2 separate regions of the Homo sapiens genome follow, and region 1 is linked to region 2. Evidence: fine-mapped expression QTL. A gene starts in region 2. The other region holds a variant in brackets. All regions are shown on one strand. Distances are from middle to middle. Region 1 overlaps FAM193A (family with sequence similarity 193 member A). Region 2 holds the start of TNIP2 (TNFAIP3 interacting protein 2).

The links. PIP is the estimated chance that this variant, and not a neighbour inherited with it, causes the effect.
Region 1: its variant is fine-mapped to the expression of TNIP2 in whole blood (TOPMed, PIP above 0.99).

Annotation. Positions count from the first base shown.
Region 1 is chr4:2,729,661-2,732,557 of GRCh38, reverse strand. It overlaps FAM193A (family with sequence similarity 193 member A), which reads right to left. Exons shown (of 21, transcript NM_001366318.2): 21 at 1-783. The coding sequence ends at 690. Among named protein-coding and RNA genes, the nearest start is that of TNIP2, 25 kb to the left of the region's middle. The variant C/T (reference allele first, on the strand shown) is at 1,595.
Region 2 is chr4:2,754,824-2,757,720 of GRCh38, reverse strand. It overlaps TNIP2 (TNFAIP3 interacting protein 2), which reads left to right and starts at 1,385. Exons shown (of 6, transcript NM_024309.4): 1 at 1,385-1,707. The coding sequence starts at 1,432. RefSeq lists silencers at 923-1,062, 1,243-1,762, 1,783-1,842.

The DNA.
Region 1 (2,897 bases), 25 kb after region 2:
TATTCCATCTTTCAAAAAGAAAGACATGATTTTAATATTACTTAACAATATGTTAAAAAAGTAGCCAGGCAGGCCTCCGTGTTAATACAGTCGTACACTCTATAACAGACTTGATGGTGTGAGTACTGGGTGGGCTTGTTTTTAACTTTCTCGTTCTGCAAGGGATCTTACACAAGCTGGCTACAAGTCAGGGGGATCAAACACAAACAGCGCAACGTGTACACTCGGAGACAGTAGATTGTGGAGAACAAAGGAGGCCTGCCCCGCCCAGCCCGCCTAGGGTGAGACGCAGGGGCACAGGAGAGCTGAGTGACGGCCGATACCCCGGTGAGGACACATGACAGGACAGGGCGCAATGCAGAGGCAACGGAGCCACGTGGATGATGCAAACTCCTATCTGGCCACGGCCCAGGCCTCCGAGGCCGCGGTGGTGGGAGGACTTGGCGGGAACTACTGTTCCAATCCGACAGCACAGAGCTACAATCGAAGGAGTCTCACGCACAGACTACACGCACACGAGCTAACGGCGTGGGCCGAGCATCAACTTCTCGGTCTGGGGTTTCAGGCAGCACCAGCTCCGCACAGCCCTTGGCAAGCACCACGGCTCTGGGGCGCCAGCGAGGGGCGTGGCTCTTGGGGTGGTGCAGCCTGGCCTGCCTCTCGCGTGTCCCTCTCCAGGGAGTCCTCATTCAGTGGGCAGCAAAGGTGGCTTTTTTCAAGCTAAAATTGGACCAGTTGATAGACAGTCTTTGTCGGGTCTGTCTAGCAGAATCCAAGCAGAACCTGCAAAGACAAAAAGCCAAACAGTCACTGAAGGAAACAGCCCACAACCAAGCTGGTGCTTGGCAAAGCCCATCACACTCCTGTTCTTGCCAGAAACTCACTGCGGGGTCAGGGGTTTAGATTCTCGGTGAGGGGCACAGTGTCAAGGGTCCCCTCCAGGCCCTGCTACAGGCTGCACTTGAGAAGGGGAAAGGACTCGGGAGGAGGAATGGGTGGGCGGAAGGAGTCCTGAGAAAGAAAAGAAACGTTTAATCTGAGAGCTGTGAGCGCCCTTAAATTATCAGGCCCAGGCAGGGTGTGGTGGCTCATACCTGTAATCCCAGCACTTTGGGAGGCTGAGGAGGGCAAATCACTTCAACTTAGGAGTTCGAGACCAGCCTGGGCAACATGGTGAAATCCTTTTTTTTTTGAGACAGGGTCTCACTCTCTTGCCCAGGCTGGAGTTCAGTGGCAGTTTCGGCTCACTGCAACCTCCACCTCCAAGGTTCAAGCAATTCTCTGCCTCAGCCTCCCAAGTAGCTAGGACTACAGGCATGTACCACCACACCGGTTTTTTTTTTTTTTTTTTTTTTTTTTTTGAGAAGGAGTTTCGCTCTTGTCATCCAGGCTAGAGTGCAATGGCACAATCTCAGCTCACTGAAGCCTCCGCCTCCCACGTTGAAGTGATTCTCCTGCCTCAGCCTCCCAAGTAGCTGGGATTACAGGTGCCCACCACCACGTCCAGCTGATTTTTGTATTTTTAGTAGAAAGAGGGTTTCACCATGTTGACCAGGCTGATCTGTACTCCTGACCTAAAGTGATCCGCCTGCCT[C/T]GGCCTCCCAAAGTGCTGGGATTACAGGCGTGAGCCACTGTGCCTGGCCACACCTAGCTAATTTTTAATTTTTTTCAAATGGAGTCTCTGTCACCCAGGCTGGAGTGCAGTGGCACGATCTTGGCTCACTGCAACCTCTGCCTCCCAGGTTCAAGCGATTCTCCTGCCTCAGCTTCCCAAATAGTTAGGACTACAGGTGCATACCACAACACCCAGCTAATTTTTGTATTTTTTGTAGCTTCTTCCCTGGCCAAGAAGCTTTTTTTTTTTTCTTGACACGGAGTCTTGCTCTGTCGCCCAGGCTGGAGTGCAGTGGCGTGATCTCGGTTCACTGCAACCTTCGCCTCCCAGGTTCATGCCATTCTCCTGCCTCAGCCTCCCAAGTAGCTGGGACTACAGGCACCTATCACCACGCCCAGCTAATTTCTTCTATTTTTAGTAGAGATGGGGTTTCACCATGTTAGCCAGGATGCTCTCAATATCCTGACCTTGTGATCTGCCCTCCTCGGCCTCGCAAAATGCTGGGATTACAGTCGTGAGCCACCGCGCCCGGCCTCCAAGAAGCTTTTATAGAAAGCAGAGGCCTCGAAAAAATTGTATACACATATATCCTAAATATCAGCTTCTAATTAAGTCAACTTTCAACTCTAAAGCTGTTTAAAAGGATTCCTGTGTCAGGTCTTAGCCAGGCAAATAGTCAACATTCTTGTTTCTTGGTTTTTCCTTCCTGAAACTGACACCAAAGAGGAGATCTGAAGCTGGCCATGGTGGCTCATGCCTGTTTTCCTACTACTTTGGGAGGCTGAGGTTGGAGAATCACTTGAACCCAGGCGTTTGAGACCAGCCCGTGCAACACAGTGAGACTCCATCTTTACAAAAAGTAAAAAGTTAGCCAGGAGTGGCAGTACACATATGTGCCTATAGTCCCAGCTGCTCGGGGCTGAGGTGGGAGGATCCTTGAGCCTGGGAGGTCAAGGCTGCAGTGAGCTGTGATGGTGCCCCCGCACTCCAGCCTGGGTGACAAAGGTGAGACCCGTCTCAAAAATAATAAAGCCTTGCTGTGGTGGCTCATGCCTATAATCCCAGCACTTTGGGAGGCTGAGGTGCGTGGATCACTTGAGCTTACAAGTTCAAGGCCAGCCTGGGCAACATGGTAAAACCTCATCTCTACAAAAAAACACAAAAATTAGCCAGGTGTGGTGGCGCACACCTGTGGTCCTAGCTACTCGGGAGGCTGTGGTGGGAGCATGGCTTCAGCCTGGTGGGCAGAGGCTGAGCGAGCCTGTTGCCGGTGGCAGGTACC
Region 2 (2,897 bases):
TCTGCCCTTCCTTCTGCTGAGAGGAAGCCCAGGCTCTGATGAGTAAGAAGGAGCCTTCCATAGCAAAGCCAGGCCTGTGTAGCCCAATGTCCGGGCCATAAGCACTTGGGTGGCTCTGGCTTTGCTTATAGGCTTGTCTGATTCTACAAGCTTGTGTTTTCCCAGGCTCAGCTCAGGCTTGGCTGTGGATCACATAAGGGAAGAAAGTCAAGAAGCTGCTCAGGGGCGGAGCCTGTGGGCAAGTGCACACACAGGGAAGACCCCTGCCCTATCCTGAGTAGGGAACCTTGGAAAGACCCCATGTGTGCTTGGGCATCATTGTGGGGAAGACTGGGCTGTGGAAAAACACTAGCGTTTGTCTGGGAATTTTGGGGAAGGAAAGGGATGGAAAAGCGAAAGGGTGGGAAGGGGCTGGTTTCCTGCTGCTTCTGCTATATAAGAACAGCATCTAGCAGGAAGGTTGTCCCGTGGGCCCATACTAGCCACCTTACAAAGCAGCGTCTGCAGTGGCTGACGCCTGTAATCCCAGCACTTTGGGAGGCTGAGGCCGGTGGATCTACCTGAGGTCAGGAGTTCAAGACCAGCCTGGCCAACATGGTGAAACACCATCTCTACTAATAATACCAAAAAATTAGCAGGGCATGGTGGCGGGCGCCTGTAATCCCAGCTACTCAGGAGGCTGAGGCAGGAGAATCGCTTGAAACTGGGAGGCGGAGGTTGTAGTGAGCCGAGATCGCGCCATTACACTCCAGCCTGGGCAACAGAGCGAAACTCCGTCTCAAAAAGAAGAAAAAAAAGGAAAGAAAAAAGAAAGCGGCGTGCGGGGCAGGGGGTTGGAGCTCTTTCTGGGCTCAGTGTCCCCAGGTGACGGAACACATGCCACGTGCTTGGTGCGCTGCGAGCTCAGCTCCTGGAGCTTCTGTTGCTGCTGTGGCCGCAAGGCCTGGACCCTCGCGGGGAGATTCAGACCCACACTTAGCTCCAGAGCTTGGGGGTTGTCGTTAAGCCCTTCCTTTCCATCAGAGGCTGATGAATCCCCAAACTCCTGGGCTGAGTTCGACTCTCCGACAACTCCTCAGAGGCGGATGTTTGGGGCCACTGGAATAAGCCCAGCACCAGCTGGGGTGTGGACAGCCTCGGGGGCCAGGCCAACTCTCCCGGACGGGTGCGGACGGCAGGGGCGGGGCCGGGCTGTAGGCGGTGGGAGGGGTGGGGCCGGGCGAGAAGGGGCTGGGCGGGCTGCCGTCGGGCGGGGCTGCGCGGGGAAGGGCGGGGCTGCGCGGGGGGCGGGGCTGCGTGGGGGAGGGCGGGGCCGGGCTGTTGTGGGTGGGCGGGGCGCACCGGGGAAAGTTCCGGGAAGGGCGGCAGCCGGCGGGGCCCGGGCGCGGAAGTTGCCGGCGGCCGCGCGGCCTCCCGGGCGGGCCTACAGCCATGTCCCGGGACCCGGGGTCGGGCGGCTGGGAGGAGGCCCCGCGCGCAGCTGCCGCGCTCTGCACCCTGTACCACGAGGCCGGACAGCGGCTGCGCCGCCTGCAGGACCAGCTCGCTGCCCGCGACGCCCTCATCGCTCGCCTCCGCGCCCGCCTGGCCGCGCTGGAGGGGGACGCCGCGCCGTCCCTAGTGGACGCGCTGCTGGAGCAGGTTGCGCGCTTCCGGGAGCAGCTGCGAAGGCAGGAGGGCGGCGCCGCCGAGGCCCAGATGCGCCAGGTACGAGGGCGGGTACCAGAGGAGCTGCGGGAGCGAGAGTGCGTGTGGCGGCCGCCGGGTCCTGGGTGGGTGAGCGAGCGGGCCCCGGGTCCTGAGGGGTTGAGGGGGTACTGGGTCCTGGGGTTGAGTTGGCCTCGGGTCCTGAGGGGTTGGGGGAGCACCAGGTCCTGGGAGTTGAGGGGGTGCCGGGTCCTGGGGGTGAGGGGGCCCCGGCTCCTGAGGGGTTGGGGGAGCATCAGGTCCTGGGGGTTGAGGGGGTGCCGGGTCCTGGGGTTGAGGGACACTAGGTCCTGGGGGTAAGGGGCCGTCGGGTCCTGGGGGTGATAGGGCAACAGCTTCTGGGGGGTGAGGGGACCCTGGGTCCTAGGGGAGAGAGGGGGACCAGGTCCTGAGTGGGATAAGGGGACACCACGGGCTGAGGTGTGCTGGGTCCTGGGGGGTTTGAGGCGTCACCAGGTGCTGGTGGAGGTGAGGGGGCTCTGGGTCCTGCGGGGTGAGGGTGCAAGGTTCTGAAGGGGATAAGCGAATGCTGGATCCTGGGGGGTTGGGAGGGCACTGGGTCCTGGGGGATGGTGAGGAGGCACTGGGTTCTGAGGAGGGGGGTTGGTGCAGTTCTTGGGTTCTGTGTGTGTGTGGTGTATGTTCAGGTGGGCTCTTAGGGGTATTTTGAGGTTCGTGTGTGGGAACACATTCCGAGGGGGGTGTGTGTATGCTGTGTGTATTCTGTGTGTATTGTGTAGTGTGTATGTTCCGGTTGGTTCTTAGGGGTGTTTTGAGGTGTGTGTGCGGGAGACACATTCTGAGGGGTGTGTATGGTGTGTGTGTGTACGCACACATGTGTGTCTTGGGTCCAAGGTCGTGTACTCATATTGTGTTCTAGAGTCCCTTCCAGCCCTCACCCATGCATGTGTCTTTCACTAGTGGCGCTTCAACTCTATGCTGGGAGCAATGGCAAATGCAGCCCGTGTCTGATAAAGGACACAAATCCTAGGCTGGGTGCAGTGGCTCACGCCTGTAATCCCAGTACTTTCGGAGGCAAGGCGGGCAGATTGCCTGAGCCCAGGAGTTCGAGACAAGGCTGAGCAACATGGTGAAACCCTGTCTACAAAAAGTGCAAAAAATTAGCCGGGCATGGTGGCACGTGCCCGTGCTCCCAGCCACTAGGGAGACTTAGGTGGGAGGATCACTTG